Linked DNA regions of Homo sapiens. The protein of the gene in region 1 purifies or fractionates together with the protein of each later gene. This does not show direct contact. Each region holds a gene or a part of one and is shown on either strand. Other genes may lie near its edges.

What was found.
Region 2: the proteins of SCG5 (region 1) and CHAC1 purify together in Homo sapiens (affinity purification with mass spectrometry; one large-scale study listed by BioGRID and IntAct). This does not show direct contact.

The regions. Positions count from the first base shown.
Region 1 is NC_000015.10:32,682,994-32,686,804, forward strand, and holds part of SCG5 (neuroendocrine protein 7B2 isoform 1 precursor), read left to right. Parts: intron 1-1,563; coding exon 1,564-1,676; intron 1,677-3,811. Other genes in the region: ARHGAP11A-SCG5 protein, read left to right, coding at 1,567-1,676. UniProt on the Homo sapiens protein: Acts as a molecular chaperone for PCSK2/PC2, preventing its premature activation in the regulated secretory pathway.
Region 2 is NC_000015.10:40,952,047-40,956,561, reverse strand, and holds CHAC1 (glutathione-specific gamma-glutamylcyclotransferase 1), read right to left. Parts: upstream 3,092-4,515; 5' UTR 2,979-3,091; coding exon 2,748-2,978; intron 2,335-2,747; coding exon 2,299-2,334; intron 1,190-2,298; coding exon 788-1,189; 3' UTR 50-787; downstream 1-49. UniProt on the Homo sapiens protein: Catalyzes the cleavage of glutathione into 5-oxo-L-proline and a Cys-Gly dipeptide. Acts specifically on glutathione, but not on other gamma-glutamyl peptides. Glutathione depletion is an important factor for apoptosis initiation and execution.

The DNA.
Region 1 (3,811 bases):
ACAATTATGAAAGGTTATAAAGGTGCCATATGCAGATTGCCTGAACTCTCTTGAATTGGTATATTTTCCTACATGTTAATTGCTATATATTGTGTAAGTTAGATAAATAGCTCACTGAAAAGTGGAGAGCCGCATTAGGGATTTGTTCAGAATGCTGATGACTTCCACACTAGCTGTATACTGCTAAGAGCTGAGAGACTGTGTACTGAAAGCTTAAGAGCAGTGTCAAGAACTAGACAACCTGGCTAATTGTAAATGGCCCCCCTTTCAGCATTGACTTTGATGTCTCATTATGTCTTTCAAATGAGACCCTCCTTCTTCCCCCTAACCCTGCACAAAATTCACAATCCCTCCTCTGTCCCCCTTTTTATTGCTGTTGTCTAAAATATATTAGACATGGGAAAAATGACTCATTTTTAGAGCATCATGCCTAGTAATAATAGAATTTACATAAAAGCAGCATCTGAGAGAGATAGCCTTCTTTCTTTGGTTTCAATGGAAAACTTGCTTGATTTCAAAGGGCAGTCATAGTATAAACTGTCAGTCAAAGGGAGATAATGGGAAGGGAACTAAAACATATTGCAAACCTATTATGTGCCGGGTGTTCTAAATGTAATCATCTCTATTCCTCACAGCAATCCCGTAGGTAAGTATTTGATTATTTGCATCTCACACATACATGAACAAACTTGGAGAGACCAAGTTAACTTTCCAAAGGAACTAAGCCTATCTATATCTTAGGAGCTGGGATTTGATCCTTGAGCTCTGCTCTTGTCTGACTCCAAAGCTTAAGCTGTTATCACAATAAAACACAACATCAAGTGCTGTGTGGAGATTGTTGTTGTTGTGTAATGTACTTTCTCCAAGAAGCCAAAGTAGTTTCTAAACTGCTTGCTCAGGAGAAAACAGAGTGGGTCATGTGCAACAGAAGTATGTTACCTAAGGAAACACTTGCTCTTGTAACAAATAAAAACATTGTATGGCTCAACGCAATAGAAGTTTATTTTTCACCCGTGTGAAGTCCTGCCAGAGGCGCGTGAGGCTGTAGTGCGGTGGATGGTTCGGCACCCCAGACTGCCATCTTTACACTTGACCCCCACAGTTGCCCTGGCAACATGTAACAAGCTGACCAGGAGATGGGGGTGGGGAATGAGGAGAAGTGGAGCATGGTATGAGAGGTTTTTATGCTTTTAGGTGATGTATTTCAATTCCAGGCCTGGGAATGGAATACATTACTTGTGCCCACATTCTGTTGGCCTCCACTCAGGCAAATGACTCCACGTGATTGCAAAGCAAGGCTGGGAAATTAGTCTAGCTGGGTGCTAAGGAGGAAAGGGAAGTGGGTTTGGTGAACAGCCAGTGAGTCTCTGCACAGGAGTGGGAGTTTGAGATGAGTAATCCTATCTAACTGGATCCTAGAGGGAAGGTGGCTGCTAGTGTTCTAAGTTACTACTGATGTGAACAGATTCTGACCTTTGGCTGCCTAGTTGTTTTTGATAAATTAACTCTTAGAATAATGATGAATGTCTTGGCCGTTCCTCAAAAACCTTTGGCTGTTTGCAGCAGATGATGGATGTCTAGAAAACACCCCTGACACTGCAGAGTTCAGTCGAGAGTTCCAGTTGCACCAGCATCTCTTTGATCCGGAACATGACTATCCAGGCTTGGGCAAGTGGGTAAGTCCTATCTCAATTGTTAGTAGATTTTGCACTTTGGTACTCTGAAGGTGCTGATGGCAGGGATGAGCAATATGGGCAGAAGGAGAGAAGAAAAATTATTTAGAAGCTAATTTTTCAGAAATCTCTGGTTGACAGAGCTTCAAGTCATGACTACTCAAAACCACACTTATGTGTCCAGGCAGCACTATACCAAATCCAACTAAAGAGACAGCAACCTAACATTGACCATAGTCTCCAGAGTCTTCTACTCTGGTCTGCTTCACAGCCTGTGTCATACACATCCTAAATTTCACCAGTGTTTCATGCATCTCTATAGGGTTTTATCAAAGGATATGATTTTTTTTAATTGACACAGAAAATTTGCAAATGTGATCTCTAAACTAAGGGAGATGATCTCTGCAGAATCAAGGGAATAAAGATGCCAGAGCTTAGAAACAGATATATATAATTCTGCTTTATAGAAAGAGAAAAAATATTCCGTGATGTGTAGCAGTGAGATTGCTGTCAGTCCTAGGTAAGTGCATATAGCTGTCAGTTAAGGGAGTTGTTTATAAGCACTTGGAAAGATAAATCATGACCATTTGGCATCAGTGTGCTAAAAACAAGTCTTGCCAATCTAATTATATTCTTCCATTTGCCAGCATTATTCATTTATTTGCCAGCTTGATGAGGGAAATGCAGTGGGCATGGTGCATTTGGACTTTTGCAAAGCATTTGACAAGATCGTTTTATGTTCCCCTATTGGAAGAGGTGGAAAGATACAGCCTAGGCAACAGAATGTCACCAAAATGGGGCTTGTTAAAGAGTCCATGTAAATAGGGAGGGAGATTTCACATGGTATTCTGTGTGTCTTAGCACTACCCCACTCCACATTTTTATCAATGTTTGTAATAATATAGAACTTGTACTTATCAGATTCCCAGAGGATGACATGAAGTTGGAAGAGATACCATCAGATGACAGAGTTGGGATTCAAGAAGATCCCAGCAGACTAGAACAATGAGCCAAACAAGATCAGAACTGAGTGGGGATATGTCTGTGTTTCTGTGGTTGGGCCAGATGCTGAAGCCATGGGAGAAAAGTGGGGAAATACCTAGGAGTGTTCCTTCACATGTAACAGTAGGTGGCCAGTACGTCTGTGGAATGAATGAGTGAGTGAATGAGCAAATATTCCAACTCCCTCAGCCCTTCTAAAGTCCTCATCTCTTCTTAGCTCATTATTGGCAGATGGCCTTGCTTACTGCTTTACTGGGAACACTGAAATTTCAAAACTAAACTCCCTCCTTTCCTCCTACATTGTTTTAGAGAAATCTTCATTAATGACCACTTTTATTTTTTTCAGCGTCTTGCTTTAACATGCATTGTCAGTTCCCTCTGTCTTCAACATACACACATTTCCTGTCTTAAAACAACAAAGCAACAACATTCCTAAGTTAATTTTGCTTCTTCCAATTTGCATTATTCCATTTCCTTCTTTTTCATAAACAGTTCTGTTTGGAAGAATTGGTTTGTGGAGCCACTTTCAAGCCTAGTAGTAGAGCTTAAACATGTTGAATTAAATAGAAAAACATCTATAGGTTCTCGAATAGGAGACTGAAATAATAAAAGCCTTCTATAAAAGAAGTTATTTTGATGGCATATTAAAGGATGAAGTAAAAGGAGAAGAGACTAACCCTAGACAGGAAGAAAATATGGGGAGTCATTTCAGTTATGATGACTGTGAACACCGTGAAGAAGGGTGAGAATCCAAGACATTTTAAAGGGGGAAAAACTAACTAGAATTGGTATACGGAATAAATATAACATGAAGAAGAAAGAAGAGATATGTCAGGTTCATATGAAATGGACAATATGAACTTTTTCTTTGAATGCATTTTAGAAAGAAAGAAAAGAGAGGAATAGAGGGAGGAAGGACATAAAAAAGAGAAGAGAGAGTGAGGGAAAGAGTAGATTGCGGAGGAGTACTGGGAAGAGATCCACAAGAGGTGATCGAAGCATTGCCAAACAGAAGCAAAAGCCAGGTTCGATAAGGCACAAAGAGAACACATTGAGCCTGCTGTGTTCCAGGCACTGTGCTAGATGCTCAGTATGCAGGAGTCATCAGGACATGGTGCTGGTCTTCAGAGAGCTTA
Region 2 (4,515 bases), 8.3 Mb from region 1:
TGCCCCAAACCCCCATCTGAGAAAGAACCACATTCCGGCACAGCACAGATAAAGAGATAGTTTTATGGGTAACAGTATGGGACAGACTGGGAAGGTTGCCAGGGCCTGTAGTGATGAGCTTCCCAGGAATAGACCAACACACAGGCAGGAGTGGCCCAGACAGACAAGTAGATAGACAGACAGACAGAGGGACAAGAAAACAACCAAGTGGGTAAGAGGCCCAGGCCAGGCTCAGCAGCTGTGTCCAGGCATCAGCTCCAGCTCTGCTCTGGGGAACTGGTGGAGGAGAAGGGCTGGCCGGGGCCTCAGTCCTTACAGGGCTCCTTCTCCTCATGCCCTACTATCCCTCATCCAGCCTGCTGGGATCCTTGGCAGGTGGAATTCCCAGGGCTATGGATGGCTGGGCTGAGTGAGCAGAGGATCGAGGCTCTTGGAGACTCCCTGGGGAGGTGGAGGCCTGGGTGGTGTGGGGTTAGCAGCAGCACTGGGGGGAATCTGGTCAAGTTCCAGGATGGGGCCACTGCTCAGCAGGGCCCCTGTGTCCAGGGCAGGCCCTCCACCTGCCCACCACACCAACATGGTGCAATAAATAAAGTTTCAAGTAGTAAGTCAGTGTCAAGCAGGAGAGCTGCAGGCTGGCAGACAGGCAGGGACTGAGAAAGAGAAGCCTCCAGCCACCCACCATATCTGCTCAGTGGGCTCAAGCGGTCGCAAGTCTGTCTTGTGCACTGGAGTGGGTGTCTGGCCCTGATGTCCACATGAGCACTCCCCGCAGGGGCTCAGCCCCTCACACCAGCGCCAGAGCCTGCTCGGTGGGGCAGAAGCAGGGCAACATGGTGCCCACAGCGTCCACGATGGCTGCCAGGTGCTCGTCCTGCGCCTGAGGCCCACAGAGCTGCATGAAGTCTGCCAGACGCAGCAAGTATTCAAGGTTGTGGCCGGAGAAGCCCCGGCAGGCCAGGATCTGCGTGGCAATGGCCTCTTCAGGCGCAGGGCCCAGGTAACCAGGGTTCTGTGGGGTGGCCACATAGGCCAATGCCTTCAGTGGTTGGTCAGGAGCATCTTGGGGATAGAAGGTGACCTCCTTGGTATCGTAGCCACCAAGCACTGCCTCTCGCACATTCAGGTACTTCAGGGCCTTGCTTACCTGCTCCCCTTGCACTTGGTATGCCACGCCCCAAGTGCAGCCCTGGGAAGAAATAGGGACACCCGGGGTCAGTCATGACAGCTCCTTGCTGCTCCCTCTCCTATCCTAACATGCCACCCCCACCCAGGACTGTGCTCTATAAGGGAGGCTGTGGTCGGCTGATGAGCCATCTGGTGGCAGTACCTCAAGCCCTTGTACTCTCTTTGTTAAGAACAGTTGAAAGGCCAGGCGTGGTGGCTCATGCTTGTAATCCCAACACTTTGAGAGGCCAAGGCAGGTGGATCACTTCAGGTCAGGTGTTCGAGACCGGCCTGGCCAAAATGGTGAAACCCCATCTCTACTAAAAATACAAAAATTAGCCAGGCATGGTGGCGTACGCCTGTAACCCAGCTACTCGGGAGGGTGAGGCAGTAGAATCGTTTGAACCCAGGAGGTGGAGGTTGCAGTGACTTCAGCCTGGGTGACAAGGGTAAGACTCCGTCTTAAAAAAAAAAAAAAAGGCATAGTTGAGGCCAGGTGCAGTAGCTCATGCCTGTAATCCCAGCATTTTGGGAGGCTGAGGGTGGGCAGATCACTTGAGATCAGGAGTTCCAGACCAGCCTGGCCAATATGGTGAAACTCCGTCTCTACTAAAAATACAAAAATTAGCTGAGTGTGGTAGCGCATGCCTGTAATCCCAGCTACTCGGGAGGCTGAGGTGGGAGAATCGCTTGAATCTGGAAGGCAGATGTTGCAGTGAGCCAAGATTGCATCACTGCACTCCAGCCTGGGCAACAGAGCAAGACTCTGTCTCAAAAACAAACAAACAAAACAACAACAACAACAACAAAAAAAAAAAACAGTTGACAAAGTGGTCTAGTACCAGGGAAGACAGGATTCCTCCTCAAAGTGTGGTCCAGGATGTGGTGGCATCACCTGTAAGCTAGTTAGGAATGCTGTGTCTCAGGACCCATTCTCATGCTACTGAACTAAAATCTGCATTCTAACAAGATCCTCATGTGATTTGGTGAGAAGCACTGAGCTAGAACACGTTTCTACTCTGCCAGAGAAGCATCAGACAGAGCTAGCCTGCAGCCAAGAGCCTATGAGCTCTCTCTGCTGGTCCCCCTTCACACTGGGCCAGGGTTCCCCTTCATGATTCGGGCACTTACCTCATGATCTTCAAGGAGCGTCACCACACGGCCAGGCTAGGGAGGGAAGAAATATTTTGAAATAGACAAGTTAGAAATCAGCTCTGCCATCAGCAAGGAAACCTTTATCAATCCCGCTGACCCGGGCCTCCAAGTGCCCCACTCTGCATGCTGAGTCCCATTCATGCAGGGGAAGGTGGGGGAGCGATGCACGGATGTAGGAGAAACGTCCAGAAACACTGACATGTCAGTGGTCCCAGTTGGTGATCAACACAGGGATCCACAGGTTCACAGACTCCAGCCATCACAGTGATGCACTGGGCACATACATTTAAATGAGCCACAAACCCCAGACACAGGTTTACACATTTCTTTCTATTGGCCCAGAGAGCCCCGGACATTCCAGGGCACTGGCGCCCAGTATCCCGCCCCCAACCCCCTCACTCCCCTGGGCACGGTTGGATGCTCACCATCTTGTCGCTGCCCCGATGGAAGGTGTCTCCCTGCCAGAAACGGCGGCTGTAGCCGCGCACGAAGCCCACACGGCTGTCGCTGTAGGCGAAGTCGGGCCTCCACACCAGGGAGCCGTACCCGAAAATCCACAGCGCTTGAGGGTCGCCGTCGTTTCGGGGGAACTGAGCGGACGGCGTAGGGGACTGCGAGGTGGGCGGGGTGTTCGGGGCTGCAGACTCCTGCTTCATGGTGCCTGGCACAGGGATAGGCCCAGGCGGCCTCCGGGGCTGGTCTCCGGCGTGGGCACGGAAAGACCGACGGACGCACACACCTGGCCTGGCACCGCTCGGTAGCTCCAGCTGAGCGCCCCCCATGGAGGCGCCCTTTAAACCTTCTTGCCGGGAGACCACGCCCACCGCGGCCAGCTGCCGCGGTGATTGGGGTGGGGCAAATCCCCTTTTGGCCAATCAACTTCGGATTCTGCTTCTCACTTAACCGCGCCGCGGGCCCAGCGCGCCCGCTGATTGGTTCAGCTCCACCTCTGTGGCAAACCTGGCAGGAGTGATGCAACGGCAGGGGAGGTTTCTCCAGCGCCGGCATGCAGCAAGGGCGCCTCGGATTGCGTCAGGCGGCGGGCAGGGGGCACCCGCCGGGCCCAGGGCGGGCACCGGGCGGGCGTCTCCCCAGCCGCCCCCTCATGACCTGGGCCCCTTGGAGGTACGGCGAGCGAGTCCCAGGCGGTGTCAGCCCAGCCTTGCCGCTAGTGCATCTGGCCGAGTCCCTGCCAGCCTAGGCGGCACAGACTCAGTCCCAAGTCGAGTCCAGGGCACGTCCAGAAGGAGCGCTCTGGGCGTCGTAAACTTCCGTCTCTGGGGCCCCTCCTGAGATCATGCACTGCGGGAAAGCTGTCGGAGGCACCGTCCGCATTCCGCTCAAGTGCCTCACGCCGTTGGCCATTGTGAGCAAATGGAGAAACTGGGCCACGGGGCTGCAGGGGGTTCTGCAGAGACTGCGGGGCTGAGTTAGGTAGGCCAGGCGCCCGGAGCTTGCAGGCCTCACATGGGCTACGCCCCGGACCAGGTGTGGGACCCCTCGAGCCCAGGTAGGCTCGGGGAAGAGCCTGTTAGAGCGCTTGGACCGACCGGCAGTCACTTTGGAGGTGGTGGCTGCACCTGCGGAGAAAGGCTATAAAGATGCAAAAGCCAGGCTAGTCTTGCCCCCAAGGCGATGGGTTTAATTCTTCCTGGACGTGAGATTTTGCAGCAATGATTAATCCATAGGCACAAGGTTCCGGGAGCAGCGGGCAAGGAGGGCCCAGTGAGGCCCCCACAAGACTATGGCCAGCTACTGGTCTTCTCCCTCGGCTTCTGGCCTCCCAGCCGAGTCCACAGGCCGCCGGGGGTTGACCCAATACGCAGCAAGGGACTGCCCTCAGGGGATGTCACTGACTGTAAAAGGGAAACAGAGGCAGCTGAAGGCCTTCTCTCTAAACTGGCCAGGAGATGGCTGGCAGGGGCAATGTGCAACATGGCTTCTCATTCGATTCTAATTCAATATTTAAACTAAACGTGATCTTCACACTTCACATATTCATTCCGAAGGTGTCGCAGATATAAGTGGGAAACTTGCACAACAGTGTGTATAGTACAAAGCTATTTCTTTAAAAACAAAAAGTATTCGTGTAATAAATAATCTGGAAGAATATACCTAAACAGTTAGCAGAGGCTGGCACCAGAGGAGGACTTTCAGTATCAAACTTAAACAGTAATGAAAAAGTCTGGATTT